2 separate regions of the Homo sapiens genome follow, and region 2 is linked to region 1. A link means that fine-mapping ties the variant in region 1 to the expression of a gene that starts in the linked region. Tissue or cell type: whole blood. Region 1 holds a variant in brackets; the other region holds the start of a gene. All regions are shown on one strand. Distances are between the middles of the regions.

Region 1 (8,129 bases):
GAGGCTCTGGTACTCCACCCCACAGTGCAGTTCCAATGGAGTGGGACCTCAAAGCCAGGTCCCCATCACGGGGCATCCCACCTATGCAATGCGCTCACTTGTAAGTCCTCAGAGTACCTGCAGGTGTCTGTTGGACAAAAGCACACCCGAGTATCTCACCAGGATAACCATAATTTGCAGAAACAGTGCAGCTAGAGCCTCTAGGCAGAAAGTTGAGGTTTCTTCACTGTTGAATTTTCAAGATTCTCTCTCTCCTGCATATCCAGTCAATAACATAATTCTGCAGAGCAATACTTAGTTCCTTTCCTTCAACTTTGATATTGCAGCTCCTTCCAATTTGTGTATCTTTAGGAACTGCACCCAAGGAAAGGGCTGATTTGCTGGGGTCACTCTCTCAACAATGCTTCCTCAACTGTGCCAAAAATAGCTTTGAAATTTCCACTTGAATTCTTAGAAAGGGCCCTTTTCTCTCCATTTCCATCTGAGGAAAAGAGGAGGTAGCTTATTTTCACAGTTCCATGGTTTCTAATAATGGCACAATATTCTTTTGAGTGAACTGCCTTAATTCACTCAACCATCCCCCTATTATTAGACATTGGGTAATGTTCAATTTTTCCTTTTTCTTTTTTTTTCGAGACAGAGTCTCACTGTGTCGCCCAGTGCAATGGCACCATCTCAGCTCAGTGCAACCTCCACCTCCTGGGTTCAAGCAATTCTCCTGCCTTAGACTCCCGAGTAGCTGGGATTACAAGTGCCCGCCACCAAGCCTGGCTAATTTTTGTATTTTTAGTAGAGACAGGGTTTCATCATGTTGGCCAGGCTGGTCTCAAACTCCTGACCTCAAATGACCCACCTGCCACGGCCTCCCAGAGTGCTGCGATTACAGGCGTGAGCCACCATGTCCTGCCAAATGTTTAATTTTTAACCCTTTAAAAATAACACTATGATGAACATTTTTTAGTATAAATCTTCTCCTATGTTTAGCTTATTCCCAGAAATAGATTTACCAAGGCAATGGGGAGGACTTTTAGCACATATTGTCTTGGATCACTAAAAAAAAAAAAAAAAAAAAAATCTGAAAAACAAAATAATCCAAAGAGGCCAACAAGAGTTCCTATTGAGAAGAAAATAAAAAAGAAATAGGTGGAGTGTTCAGTGTCTCAAAGAAAATAATAGCAGGCAAGTCAAATAGCAGGAAAGTAAGTCATCTCCTATTCTGCTGCGCTGATGTGAGATCTTCTATGAGCAAAATAGCTCAGGCAGATAAGTGTGTGGCTTTCCTTTCTTCATGGCAAATGCTTCCGTTTCTTTTGACAAATACATCGAATGGAATACCATAAGTCAGATAGTTTTGATCTCAGCCTTGTTTTTCAAAACACAAGCGGTTAACATGCCCTTTTACCTCTGAGGGATTGGAATGATCACCTCCTCCTGACTGTTTTCTACGGCCACCTCTAGCCCACTGCAGGCTTCCTTAGAGGGACAAGTGTGGCAGCCTCTTTGCTGGGCCCCCTGCCTCCAGCCTTGCTTCAGTTGAATCTATTGACCATTGTACACCCAAACTCATTTTCTTCAATGTCTATTTCAGTATTTCACATCTCTGAATGCAGATGTATCATAGAGCTACTTAAGTCCCTTTTCCAGGAGTTTTCAGTAGCCTGGAGGCAGATGTGGAGCGAGTAGGAGGCTGATGTCTTCGTTGGGATCCCCCAAAAGCAGACCCTGACACAGGCTTGGGGAGCAGTCGTTTCTTTGGAAGGAGATCCAAATGAGCACTACGAGAGAGTGGAGAAGGGACAGGGAGAGGAGAAAAGGCAGTAAAGTGTGTGTTTCTGAGCAGGTCACTGTGGGCCACCTGGGCACAAGCCCACAGGCATCACTGAGAGGCTCTGTGGGAGACACCTCAGAGTTGTCGCACTGAGACCAGGAGGCTGCGAGTTTAGCTATCAACTCCCATCCATTATTGCTTGTGGGCTGCTCCTGTGCCACCTTCTGGCCTGTCTTACCTGTGGCCAGGTGTCCTCAGGTGGAGGGGCTGTAGGTGAGGGCAGGAACCCTCTGCAGAAGACTCTAGGGGAGGCTGCGGGTCGGCCAACTCTGACAGCTGCTCCACAGTTGGATCTGTGTGTGTGTGTGTATGTGTATTCACACACACACACATGTACATACACACATGTATATGCATATGAATTTTTTTTTTTTTTAGATGGAGTCTCTGTTGCCCAGGCTGAAGTGCAGTGGCATGATCTCGGCTCACTGCAACCTCCACCTCCCAGGTTCAAGCGATTCTCCTGCCTCAGCCTCCTGAGTGTCTGGGATTGCAGGCACCCGCCACCACTCCCGGCTAATTTTTGTATTTTTAGTAGAGACAGGGTTTCACCATGTTGGCCAGGCTGGTCCCGAACTCCTGACCTCAAGTGATCTGCCTGCCTTGGCCTCCCAAACTGCTGGGATTACAGGCGTGAGCCACCGTGCCTGGACTTATGCATATGATTTTTAAAACAAAAATAAGATCTTACTATGCTTACTGATATTTTTGACTCAACTGTCTTGGACAACTTTTCACATCAACAGAGATATTCTATTCCCACATTATCCATGGTTGAATAGTATTCTATTGGGAGGATGCATCCCCATCAGACATTTGTTTGTTCGTTTGTTTTAGAAACTGGGTCTCACCCTGTTTCCCAGGCTGGAGTGCAGTGACGTGATCGTAGCTCACAGCATCCTTGAATCCCTGGGCTTGAGCGATCCTCCTGCCTCAGCCTCCTGAGTAGCTGGCACTATAGGCACAAGCCACCGCACCTGACCCCCTATCAGACATTTGTTACTTCTAAATGTGGTTGACATAAACAAAGGTGGACAAGAACAATCTTCCTGAAACATGGCTGGCCACAGCACTTGGTATCTCCCTTTTGCTTGAAACCCACTGATAGCTCTCCATTACCCACAGGGCCAAGCCTAAATTCCAAACCTTGGCATTCCAAACCTTGGCCTGTCCCTGGACCTCTGCTCTCTGCCCAGCTCCTCTTCTACAGTCAGACAGTTTGACCCACCGGGTCATCTCAGGTCCTGTCCATTCATACACCTGGGTCTTGGCTTGGGCTCTGTCCCCAGCCTGATAGCGCCCGTCTTCCCCTGCTGCTTGGCCCCATCAAGGACTGACTTCCTTGGAACTCCATCCCTCAGCGGTCAAGTCCTCTCTTTTTCATTATCCCCGGGGCGTAGTCTTATCTTTCTGCTCTCTTTCCATGGATACATTTTCACTTCCCAACAATGCTGGGACAAGTGACCATACTGCTTATGCCTCCAGGGTTCAGATGGCACATTGCACACGCAGACACTTCCTTGGTCAAGGTTTGTTGATGATGAGCAAAATGGCTTGTTCTCTTTCTACCTGGAATGAGAATGGAGATGGAGAGAGGCATCTCTGTGTTCTACTCACTGGGGGGCTGTGACCCCAGTGCCTGGATCTCAGCTTGTTAATGGCTGTTGAAGCCATAAGACCCATGGGGACAGTAAAGTAATGCCCACAAGCCTGCTCCCCTAGAGACAGGTACTACGGAGCAAAGGAGGAGGTGGGAATGGTCTTTCTGGTTCTTACTCCAGGACTGGCAGGAAGGGGAGCTGACATGGAGAGTGGGGGAAGGGCTACTCGGGGTGCTAAGCCCAGCTTCCTGTCTGGATTTTCCTTGACTGCTGCCGGGGGCCTATCTTAGGATGGTCACAGCTGCAGAAATAGATCTCCCCCTTCACCTGTTCTTAAGCAAGGAAGACCTTGCTAACTTCCTGTCAAAAGAACGCGTGCTTTGGTAACTTTTCCAGTACGGGAGACAGTACTGGGGACGCGGGTGCTGAAGTCACCACGATTTT[C/T]CTCGTCTGAGGAGCAGTGGCTCACCTTGGCCAGGAAACAGGGCAAATAGCCGCAAGGAGAGAGGCGAGAAGCCGGCCACGTGTTTCCAGCCAGAGTCCTCAGCCTCTTCCGTGAATTCGGGCGGTGTTTCCTTCCTTGGTCTGCTCCAGAAACCACTCTTTCCTGGCAGGAAGCCCCTCTCTCTGTCAGAGTGACAGGGAACAGACCCTTTGTCCTCCTCACTCGTCTGCCCTAGCCCCCAGCCTGCTCCTGCAAAAGTCTCTGTTTCTCCTGAACTTTTCAGCTGAGTCAATCGGGCTCTGGGACCCCGAAACCAAGCCTCCCCAGTCACTCGCTTATTCACTCAACAAACACACCCCCCTTCCCCGCACTAACCCAGGCCCAGTTCTGGGAACCAGCAAGGGGAGGGGAGGGGAGCCCCGAGCAGCGCGGCGGGAGGTGGACATGCCGGGGAGGAGACTGGCCTCCTGGTGGCGGGGGAGGGCTCCTGGGGACCCCAAGTCCGCGGAGGAGGAGACAGGAGGGAGCAGGGAGATGGAAGACCCAGGAGCACGGGCGGGCTCCGCGCATGCGTGGGAAGAGACCTTGGCGTCCTCGGCGTCGCCAAGGCAACCGGCGCCAGCCATGGCCTCTGGGGCGGGCGGAAGCTGGGGTCGCTCCCCACCGCAGAGCGCAGTCCCGACGGTGAGGGCTGAGCCCGGGAGCAGATCCTGCCTTAGCTTGGGAGACGGCAGAGTGGGGAGCTGTCCCTGGAGGGGCCAGATCCTGGAGGGGTGGGGGACGAGGAGAGACAGCCCCAAACCGAGAGGAAGAGGCGTGGCAGGGAGCAGGGAGGCCGCGGGGCGGGGAGGAGAGAACCTGGCCCCTGCGGGGTTAGGGAGGCCACTGGCCGGGGGGGTTGGGGCTCGCGACGTGTCCCCATCCATTCCCCCCACCCCACCTGGCTGACTCCGCGCACACCCCCAGCCCTGGGTCACCTTCCTGCAGCCCCTCTCGTGGGCCGTCCCACCTGCGCCCCCGCAGCCAGGCCGCGTGAAGGAAGGTGAGACTCCCGGGTCCCCCCACCCCACCCCCACCATCACCACCACTCACCCTCTTCTGCCTCGCACATCCTCTGGGAGTCCCCGCAGCACAACCCGCCAACCCATTCTTCACCCCCGGGACAGGGGTGTCAGGGGGAGGGGGACTCGGAGGCCCGGCGTGGGCTTGCTGAACCCCGCTTCCTAGACCTGCTGGAACTGATGATGCTGCAGAACGCGCAGATGCACCAGCTGCTGCTGAGTCGCCTGGTGGCTGGAGCGCTGCAGCCCCGGCCTGCCTCGCCCTGCCCTCAGGTGCGTGTGGGTGGGCCGCCGGGGTCGCTCACCTGTGGGTCCAGGGATGCGGATCCACCTGGGGTTCCTGTTCAGGGGGGAAAAGAACTGGGAGACAGAGGAGCAGGAAGCCAGCCCGTCTCTCTGGCTGGGGCTGTTTGGCATCTGTCATGTTTCAGCCTCCATGAAAGGTTGGGGCGGGGAAGAGACCCCCCAAAGTCCAGACCACCGAGGTCTTGTTTTCAAGGAGGTTTCCCTGTAGTGCCTCCCCCACTGGACTTAAGGCTCCAGGAAGGTAGGCACCCTGGTAACCCTGCCCCATGCATCATGAGCGTCTGGCCTGGTGCCTGACACCGTGTAGGGGCTCAGCTGATATTTGTTGAACGAGTGAATGAATAAATGAATGGTTAGGGATACAAAGCCAGGTTGGCTGTGATGGCACATGGAGAGGTACAAAGCACAAGTGCACATAGGGTTGGGGGATGGGGACAGGCTCCTTGGAGGAGCAGAGGATCTTAGAACCAGCCCTTGAAAGCCAGGTAGGATTTTGACCCTTGGAGGAGGCGAAGGGTGTGTCCCCCATCCAGGCTGGCAGGGGCAGAGTCAGGAGACAGAATGGGGGAAACCGTGTGCGGCAGTGTGTGTGTGCAAGAGTGTGTGTGTGTATGTGTGTGCAAGTGGGTGTCTGTGTGCATGCGTGTGTGTGTGCAAGGCTGTGTACATGCATATGTGTGTGCAAGTGTGTGTTCACGTGCGTGTGCAAGGGTGTGCGTGCACGTGTGTGCGAGCGGGTTGTGAAGGCAAGTGTGTGCGTGCAAGCAAGTGTGTGCGTGCAAGCAAGTGTGTGCAAGTGGGGGTGTGTGCAAGCGTGTGTGTGCATGCATGTGCATATAGCTCTAAGGCTGAGCCTTACTCAGCCAATAGTGGGCATCCTGAGGTCAGGAGAAGCAGGGACTGGGTGGAGAGAGAATGTTGTTCAGCTCGGAGGAGGCGGAGAGGGGTTCAAGGAATCCAGACAGAAGGAGACCCTGAGGAGCTACTGCCACCCCTCACCCCTGGGTCCTCAGTGATGACACATAGGTGGGTCCAGGGGCCGGGGGTGAGGCCGGGGACAGCTCAGTGGACTCCTGGCCCCAGCTCTGGGGGTCACACCTGGAATCAACTGGGTGGCCAAGTTGCTCAACGTCCTTGAGCTACAGGAGTAAATGTCTCCACAATTTGTTGTCCGCATGTAGTAAACGCTCAATAAACACAACCCATTCTTTTTTTCTTTTCTTTTCTTTTTCTTTTTTTTGAGACGGAGTCTCTCTCTGTCACCTAGGCTGGAGTATAGTGATGCAATCTCGGCACACTGCAACTTCCACCTCCTGGGTTCAAACAACTCTCCTGCCCCAGCCTCCCGAGTAGCTGGGACCACAGGCGCCTGCCACCACACCCGGCTACTTTTTTGTGTTTTTAGTAGAGACGGGGTTTCACTATGTTAGCCAGGATGGTCTCGATCTCCTGACCTTGTGATCCGTCCGCCTCAGCCTCCCAAAGTGCCGGGATTACAGGCATGAGCCACCGCGCCCCGCCTACACAAGCCATTCTTTTTTTTTTTTTCCTTTTTTTTCTTTTGAGATGGAGTCTCGCTCTGCCGCCCAGGCTGGAGTGCAGTAGCTCGATCTCTGCTCACTGCAAGCTCCGCCTCCCGGGTTCACGCCATTCTCCTGCCTCAGCCTCCTGAGTAGCTGGGACTACAGGCGCCCACCACCATGCCCAGCTAATTTTTTTTTTTTTTTTTTTGGTATTTTTAGTAGAGACGGGGTTTCACCGTGTTAGCCAGGATGGTCTCAATCTCCTGACCTTGTGATCCGCCCGCCTCGGCCTCCCACAGTGCTGGGATTACAGGCGTGAGCCACCATGCCTGGCCACAAGCCATTCTTACAAAGCCTATCTGGAGGAAATAACTTAGGGGAATGGAGGAGTGGCGGTGGGGAGAGCCTGATGGTAGATTCTCATTTCCCCTCCCTGTTTTGCACAATCCCCAGGTCTACCTGGAGGTTCCACAGGAAGAGCCTGAGGAGGAGGAGGAGGAGATGGACGTGCGGGAGAAAGGGCCTTTGGTGTTTCACCACCACTACTTGCCCTATTTGATGCCCTCCCCGGGTGCCCTGCTGCCCTGGCCAGCCCCCTTCTTCCCCACCCCTGCTTGTCAGCCCTACTTGCAGGACGTGCCCAGGATTCAGCACTGTCCTGCCTCCAGGGAAAGGGAGGTGTAAGTGAGGCTGGGTGCTGCCAGGGTTCTGCTCTGGGCTGGAAGTTGCAGAAGAGCTGTGCAGGGGCTGGTGGTCGGTGGAGATAACTTGTGGGTGAAACTCCAGAGGCCACCCCTGGGCCTCTGATGGGGGTCTTTTTCTTTCCCCCATCTCAGGAGAGCTGTGCCCCCACCCCCACCCCCCAGTGCCACAGGGACTGTGGGTGCTGATGTACCCCCGGCTTCAGGTAGGGCTGGGGTGGTGGGCAGCGGGGCCCAGGCCTGGGAGTGAATCAGGAGGCCAGGAGGGCCCTGTGCCCTCTGGTGGGGTTTGGGGGTTTCCTAACATCACTGCTGCAGGCAACTGGCCTGTCCCCTTCCCTTTACCTCTTTGGGGTCCACTGAGACAGGAGGGAGTCAAGATGAGGTTCTTGTTTCCCCAGACTACTATGATGCCGAGAGCCTCCTATGAGGACAGACCCCGGCCCTGGGAACTGCACCAGCTTCCTGCTCTGGATACAGCCCCGGAGCCGCCTCCTGCACCTCTCTTGTCGACTCCCCGGTGCCCATGGCTGGCAGTCCTTCTCACTCCCTCAACCTCAGCCAGGCCCTCTTCTCCTGGGGAAATCAGTCCCTGCCCCACGCCAATGAGTTCCTGGACGGGCCGGATCTGTGCTGTTGTGTAAGAGCTCCCTAGAGCACCACC
Region 2 (8,000 bases), 24 kb before region 1:
CGCCCAGGCTGGAGTGCAGTGGTGTGATCTCGGCTCACTGCAACTTCTGCCTCCTCGATTCAAGTGATTCTCCTGCTCAGCCTCCCAGGTAGCTGGGATTACAGGCACATGCCACCACGCCCAGCTAATTTTTGTATTTTGAGTAGAGACGGGGTTTCACCACGTTGGCCAGGCTGGTCTCAGAGTCCTGACCCCAAGTGATTCACCTGTCTCGGCCTCCCAAAGTGCTGGGATTACAGGTATGGGCCACCACACCTGGCCTCAGGTACTTTCTCATATTAGGATTTAACAATTTTCCCTCTTCCCAGAGCCTGATCTCTATCCTTTTTCTTTCTCTCCTTTACTGGGAGAGAATCTCCAGTTTCTCCACATGCTCTTTTGCAGGTCTGAATGTTCGGATTCTATTGATTTCATGCTTGTTGATGCATTACTTTGGAATTGCTCTGACCTTATTGCTCAGCAGGTGCCTGGTGTGTTCCTAATTGAGCTCTCAGAGCTTGGACTTTTCCTCATGGAGCCTTTTTGTGTCTCTCTCTTCTCTGCTCTGTCTGCTTATTTTATTGAGCACACACGTGTATATCACAAACCATGGGCCAGGGGCTGTGAGGGCCTTACAGATATTAAGGCATTTAATCCTTACAACAATCCAAGGAGTGGTACTATGAGTCTCCATATGCCACAGATAAGGAAACTGAGACATGGACAGGGCGAGGCACTTGCCCAAAGTTAAAGTTAGGAAGTGGTAAAGGTGAGAATTGAACCCAGGCAGTCAGGCTCCAGAATCTGTGCTTTTTTCTTTTGAGACAGAGTCTTGTTCTTTTTCCCAGGCTGGAGTGCAGTGGCAAAATTACAGCTCATAGCAGGCTTGATCTCCTGGGCTCAAACTATCCTCCCGCCTTAGCCTCCCAAGTAGCTGGGACTATAGGAGAGCATAACCAGGCCCAGCTAATTTGTTTTCTTTTTTTTTTTTGAGATGGAATCTCACTGTGTTGCCTAGGCTGGAGTGCAGTGGCGTGATCTCGGCTGACTGCCACCTCTGTTTCCCAGGTTCAAGTGATTCTCCTGCCTCAGCCTCCTGAGTAGATGGGACTACAGGTGCACACCACCATGCCAGGCTAATTTTTGTATTTTTAGTAGAGACAGGGTTTTGTCTTGTTGGCCAGGCTGGTCTCAAACTCCTGACCTTAGTTGATCCACTTGCCTTGGCCTCCCAAAGTGCTGGGATTATAGGCGTGAGCCACCATGCCCAGCTGAGTCTGTGCTCTTAACCAACTTGCCATGCTGCCTCTCAAACGCCCATCCTTCCATGTAGGACCCCATCTGCCCTCTGGTCACGTGGGCCCCTGTATGTCCAGGCTTTGCTGTGAGTTCTACAAAAACACCAGCCTGGGAGTGTTGTGACACTGAGTCAGGTTCCAGGCCTGCACATGGTACGGGGGTCTCTCAGCTCAGGCAGAGGGTCCCTGCACCTCCCCAGTACCTGGGATGACCGTGATGGTTTTGAGGGCCCGCAGCACCCGGAAGGTCCTCAGGGCTGAGATGTTGCCCAAGTCCACAAACTCTGTCAGGTACCTGGGTAGGGGGTGGAGGGGGGTGGGGACTGTCAGAGCCTGGGGTGGGTGGTAGGACAGAAATCAGGGCTCCTCCAGGCCTGGGATGAGGATTCCCAAGAAATTGGGGGTACCACAGGGTCTGGGGGGCAGGGCAGACACCCCCAAAGCTCCTCTGGGAGCCCAAGGGTTGGGAAGGACAGTGCAGGAGCTCTGGGGGAGTGGGGATGGCAAAGATAGCCCGGCTCACCCAGCAGGTGAGGACCCATGGGTCTGTGGGTCAGGGCTGCCTCATGTGATTATCAGGAGTCCATCAGGAGAGTGCTGAGCCAGACCCTGAGAATGGCAGCTTCTAGAATTGTGCAGCTCCCCATCTGCACAACTGACCGATGTCCCCTGCAGCCCTCAGCCCAGGCAGCTTCCCTCTTTAAGGCCTGGCCCCCTCCCCTCACCCACCCCAGCCTCAGGATGTCCTGGGGCCCCTGCTCACGCCATCATGATGACACTGAAGTCCAGCCAGTTCCAGGGGTCCCGGAGGAATGTGAAGTCGTCGACACAGAAGCCTCGGGCCAGTATCTTGATGAGGGACTCAAAGGTGTAGATCCCTGTGAAGGTGTACCTGGGGGGGAGAGGGCCGGCCGGGACAGGCATGTCACCTGGGTAGGGGTCAGTGTGGCAACGACAGACCCCCAGAAGGGAGGGACACAGAAATGAAATATGCCACTCAGGTGGCTAAGGACACTAGCGAGTGATAGCATGGCCACCCCAGGGACTCAAGGTGTGGATGAGGGTCACAATGACAGTGTGTCTCCCTGAAAGACAAGAGCAGCACCACACAGAGGTGCAAACACCTGAGATGGGCTGTGTCCCAGGGCTGGGGAGCTCAGGGAGCAGGGAGACTTACTCCACATTCTTGGACCAGGGAGGCGGGTCACTCATGGTCATGAATACGCAGTTGGTCAAGATGGTGATCATGATGAACATGCTGAACAGCGTGGGGCAGGGTCAAGGAAAGTGAGGAAGCAGCTAGGATGGGAGGTGATAGAGGGTCTCCTGGGCCACAGCACCCCATCTCGCCCATCCCTAACCCCTCCCGCCTCTCCCATCTTGGGCAGGATATGCATGGATGAGCACCTTGATGGCCCCGCGCCTGACTACGCTGAAGGGGCTCAGCAGGTAGAGAGCAGGTGTGGCGGAGAAGCGGAAGATGGCCTTGCCCTTGTTGAGTACGATGAAGGTCTAAGGTGGGAGAGAGGCTGTGAGACCCAGGGACAGACAGACAGGCAGACAGATGGATGGATGGCAGACAGACAGAGGAAGCCTTCCCAGGCCCAGACCTTCTTATTGCTGTAGTAGGGATCCAGGTCCTCCAGGGGGATGCCGATGACCTCCGGCGGGGGGTCTCCGTAGATCATGGGTAGGTTCTTGCCAGCCTCCAAGTCACTTCGTGGCTTCCGTTCGGGCTCCTCAATCTCCATCTGCTTATTCCGCTGCAGCCGGGCCTCCTCCTCCACCGCCCGCTGTTCTATGGCTGCCAGTGACTCCCGGGTGAAGGGGCGCAAGCACTCAGGGCCCAGAGGCACCAGGGTGCACAGAGATGGTCTGGCCATCCTCGCATCCTGGGCTCAGAGACCAGAAGGGTGGTGGGTGGCCTGGGGAGCTGCAGTGCGCAGCCCCGGGGTGCTGGGCGGCCGCCCCTCCCTGGGCGGGCCGTCCACTCCTCACCTCCTGCTTGCCCAGTGGCCGAGCCGGGGAGGTGGGCGTGCAGACTCTATCAGGACTGGGAGATGTGCCTGCAAGGTGCTGCTGCTGCACAGGTGCTGGGCACAGAGCATCACCCCTGGCCCCCCCACCACACTTTCCCCAGAAGTGGCAGCGGCTGCCCTCAGGACCGACGGCAAACCAACCAGATTCTTTGTGGCCTTGGGACTTGGGGTCAACACCCCAGTGCCTTCGACTGCCTCCTGGGCCCAAGCTCCGGGAACTGTGTGGCTTCAGCCTAATGGGACAGAGAGAGAACCACAGCTGGCTGTGCTCAGGCGACCTCTGGATAGGCCAGGATGAGGGGCCTGGTTGGGGGGTTAGATCAAAGTGGGACTGGCACAGGGACTTCACCCTGAGGGCCGACGTGGATCCTGATATTGGCCACCTGGAGATGTAGGTGGAGACCATGAAGGTGGCAGCCAGGCTCTGTGCAAAAAGGTTGCTGTGATTGATTAGTGATGTCTGCCAGGGGCGCAAGGAGGAAGACCGTGGTGCCTCTGCCTGTGTTTGCCATCCCTGGCCTGGAGGGAAGGGAAAAGAAAGATGGGGGTGGGTGTGGATTCCTCTTTCCTGATCTTTGGGGTACTTGGTGTTGGGCTGGGAGAGGGAAGAAGAAAGGGCCCTGGGCCCGGCAGGGGTCTCCTAGCAGTTCCCTCCCACAGCCCTGGGGGCTCTAGCCCACTGGGCAGGCAGGGTGAACTGGGAGAGGAACATTGCATCTGGAGAGCTGCAGGTGCTAACGTGGAAGAGAAGACGTACAGGGAAGGTCACAGGGACAAGGAGATGGACAACTCCAATGGTGGGGGCAGGGCTAGAGCTCCTGGGGACTGCTTTTGGCTGGTGGTCCCAGCACAAGCTGGATTGGGGGAAGGGGCATCCACAAGGAGCCTTTGATGCCTGTGAGCATTGTGTGGTCTGGGCCCCACCTGGCCCCTCTCCCCTTCTGCCCAGCCCTCCAGAGCCTATTCCTGTGGAAGGGAAGGGGGATCACTTATTGCAAATGGCCCTGGGGGAATGACCACATCAGCAGGCAGTTGCAGTGAGACCCCTGCAGACCAGCTGCAGGCAGCCACTGCCAGACCCACATGGACAGACCTGGAGCCACCCCTGCACCACAGGGACCTGGACAGACCCCTAGAGACCCCCAAAGCCACACCTGAGGGTGGACCTCTCCCAGTGGGCCTTGACCCTTGCAGCAGCGCCCCTGCCCTGGTCAGCACGGGCGCTTCTCAGGCTTGCTCAACAGGTGGGGAGGGTGGCCAGGGAGAGGCCAGAGCCACTGGGCAGAGCTGGCCACGCCCTTGTGCCTGGCTCCCAGCTGCTCCTTACAGCACCCAGGGAGTCGTGTTTCCACGGGGATGACTCTGCTTATTCCTGCCAACCCTGCCCTCAGCTGCTCACTGGCCCCTGTCGTGAGCGTGGGCGTGCATGTGCACACACTTGCACACACAGGCACATGCACGCACACCCGGCCTGGAGCCACCCCACATGCAGACCTTCCCAGTTGCATCTCACAGCTCTGTCATATACCTTGCCACCTTCCTCCCCATCACCCACTCCACGTACACCCCCACATGCTGCTTGTCACTACACAGAAGGCGCCAACCAGCCAGATGGCCTTGAAGAGACCCCAGGGCTGCTGTGCACCCACCCAGTCTGCAGTCCCTGCTGTGATGATCCTCCTGTCCTGATACTGCTCACTCTTTTCATTACACGAGCCCAAGTAGGGCCACAAAAGCCCACAGACACATAGTCTGGCTCCCAACCCCAGCACTCGAGGAAATGACTCTCACCTGAGTCACCAGAGCTCCCCAGGGGACAGATCCAGTGTTTTCTTCCCCGCTGGCCCTCCTGAGCTTCCCACACCGCACACCGCCTTTCTTCTTGGGAGCAGGACATCACCTGTGCGTCCGGCCACTCTCCCCAGCTCTGCTCTGGGACCTGCCCCTTCCCTGCCCCTGGAAGATGCTTCTTCTCTGGGGCCTGCTCTGCAGCCTGTTTTCTTTGCACAGCGTACACCTCTCCCTTCAAAATGTTCACTTCCTCCTAATTTCCTCTTCTCCTACTCCTCCATTACCCCTGAGGTCTGGCTGTTTTGTAATGTGAGGGGAGGAATGTCCTCACTGGTTCCACTTGCTGAAGCTGGCTTTGGTTGGTGGCTGCCCGAAGCATCATGGTGGTAGATCTGGCCAGTTCCACACCCTACTGATGCTCCCTCTCCAGTGTCACTGCCCTCTCCACCCTCCACCCCTCACCTGTTCTGTTCAAATAACCTCCCCGCGTGGTGACATGCTCCTGTAGTCCCAGCTACGAAGGCAGGAGGATCCCTTAAGCTCAGGAGTTCGAGGCTGCAGTGAGCCATGATGGTGCCACTGTCCTCCAGCCTGGGTGACAGAGTGAGACCCTGTCTCAAAAACCAACCAAAGAAACACCTCCCACCAGGCTCTCCCCTAGACTGCCATAAATATTTGTAAAGTCACAAATTTCACCCCCTGCTTAAATCTTCAATGGCTTTCCACTGCTTAGGAGTACGTCCTAAGCCCTACCCAGGGCTCCCAAGGCCCTCCATGATCAGATCCCTGCCTCATTGCCTACCCTTCCCGCATCCTCTGGCCATGCTACCTCCATTTTCACAAATGGGCCAAGCTGTTTTCCACCCCCCTGCCCTAACCCCCATGCCTTTGCTTGTGGTTTGCTCTCCTCCCAGAGCACCCATCTTCTTTGTCTCCCTGGAGAGCTTCCATTCATCTTTCTAGACTCAACCCACACAAGAACCACCTCCTCCAGGAAGCCCTCCCTGGGTACCCTGGCTGGGTGGAACTCTCCCCTTGTTTGTGTCACCAGCTCAATAAAAGTTTATCAAATGAATAAGTGAGTGAATCACAGGGACACTCTACCTTAGCTCTTTTCTCCTTTAAGCATACCCTGAACCTAAATCATAACCAGAAACCATATCTCCTCTGAAATCACCACTTCAAACTCTTCCTTTGCCCCTGCCACCTTCTCAGCTCCTGGCTCAGGGGCCCGGTTGCTATAATCTTTGGGCACTTTCAGTTCTTTGACCCTGCACTTTCTCCCTTTCCACCTGCTTCTGACTTCATGTCCCTCCTCATCTAGGCTTACTTAGAAGATCATCATTCTGGTCCCTCCTCCACAGCTCCCAGGGAGAGATCCCAGAAGGAGGGATCTCTCTCCTTCTATCACACAGTCCTGGGGAACCCCTAACTGCATGTCCCCAGCTCTGGTTTTCCAAAGTCAGCCCCGAGCTGGAGAAATGTGGCTGGGGAAATGGTATGACTAGGCTGAGCTCACCGTAAATTCATGGTCACATATTCTGGGTTTGTCCTCAATCCTGCCAGCCCTGTAGTGTGGATTTTTCTGGTAGGCTCACTTTTCCACTTTTTGAAAACAACTATTTCATGCCTTCTCCTCTTTCCTCAGACCTCCGCGCTCCTCCCCATGAGCCTCCCAGCTGATGGTCTTCCCTGAGGAAGGAAGAACCACTACACACACACTGTCAAATCCACAGAACCATCTCCCCATCCCACCCCGTCTTCCTCTATCCTGTTAGAATAATAATAAGAAGCAAGGGTCAGGCTTTCCTGGGGCTCAGGACCCCAGCCCCTCTTGCTTCTCAAAGACCTCTCCAGGTGCCCTCTCTCTACTGCCCATCCACCTCTCCCCATCTGTGAACAGACTCTAGTGTCCCCCACTTTAAAAACAATGGCAGTGGTGACAAAACTATTCTCCTGGCCCCACACCTCCCTGCATCTATTGCCCTATTTTTCTTTCCTCTTCACAGTAAAACTTCTTGGAAAGTGTCTACACCAGCTGTCTTGACTTCCTTACCTTTCATTCTCTCTCCAATCCATTCCAACCTGGCTTCCGTTTCCCCTTCAACTGAAACTACTTTTGTCAAGTCACTAACACCCTCCCTGCTGCCAAGTCCAGTGAACACGCTTCTGTCCTCAGCTCCCAGAGCCTCTCAGAAGCATGCAGCCCAGTTGGCCACAGCCCCTTTCTGGAAGCACCTGATTCTCACAGCCTCCATGGAAGCTGCTTGCTGTTTCCCTTCCACATCCCTGGCTGCTCCGTATCACTTTCCTCTGCTTGTCCTGATTTCTGTCCCCAATCTCTAATGTTTTTCAGGGTTCGAGCTGGTTCAGGGTGGCATCATTCCTATGACCATAAATAATGTCATGGGGCCAGGCACGGTGGCTCACGCCTGTAATCCCAGTGCTTTGGAAGGCCAAAGTGGGAGGATCGTTTGAGCCTAGGAATTGGAGACCAGTCTGGGCAACATAGTGAGACCCTGTCTCCACAAAAAACAAAATAATTAGCTGGGTGCGGTGGTGTGTGCCTATAGTCCCAGCTATTCGGGAGGCTGAGGCAGGAGGATCACTTGAACCCACGGAAGTGGAGTCTGCAGTGAGCTGTGATTGCACTACTGCACTACAGCCTCGGCGATAGAGCAAGACCGTGTCTCTAAAAATCAATAAATACAATAAAATAATAAATTAATTATAAAATAATAAGTTCATGAATAAAATAATAGTAATGTCATGGGAATGTGATAAACGTTTCCCTTGACGTCCAGGCTGGTATATTCAACTGCCCCCAGACGGCTCCACCGGGATGGCTCACACCCTCCCAACTGCAATCAGACGTTTGCATCTTCCACTGTTC

What was found. PIP is the estimated chance that this variant, and not a neighbour inherited with it, causes the effect.
Region 2: it holds the start of SCN4A, and the variant in region 1 is fine-mapped to the expression of SCN4A in whole blood (TOPMed, PIP 0.97).

Annotation. Positions count from the first base shown.
Region 1 is chr17:63,993,867-64,001,995 of GRCh38, forward strand. PRR29 (proline rich 29) reads left to right here and starts at 4,485. Exons shown (of 6, transcript NM_001164257.2): 1 at 4,485-4,558; 2 at 4,841-4,916; 3 at 5,102-5,208; 4 at 7,218-7,444; 5 at 7,601-7,671; 6 at 7,867-8,129. The coding sequence starts at 4,499. The coding sequence ends at 7,895. PRR29-AS1 (PRR29 antisense RNA 1) reads right to left here and starts at 6,033. Exons shown (of 3, transcript NR_126169.1): 1 at 4,459-6,033; 2 at 3,899-4,056; 3 at 2,205-3,397. RefSeq lists a silencer at 4,368-4,417 and an enhancer at 4,671-5,648. The variant C/T (reference allele first, on the strand shown) is at 3,874.
Region 2 is chr17:63,969,682-63,977,681 of GRCh38, forward strand. It overlaps SCN4A (sodium voltage-gated channel alpha subunit 4), which reads right to left and starts at 3,237. Exons shown (of 24, transcript NM_000334.4): 1 at 2,888-3,237; 2 at 2,671-2,789; 3 at 2,455-2,544; 4 at 2,041-2,169; 5 at 1,481-1,572. The coding sequence starts at 3,160.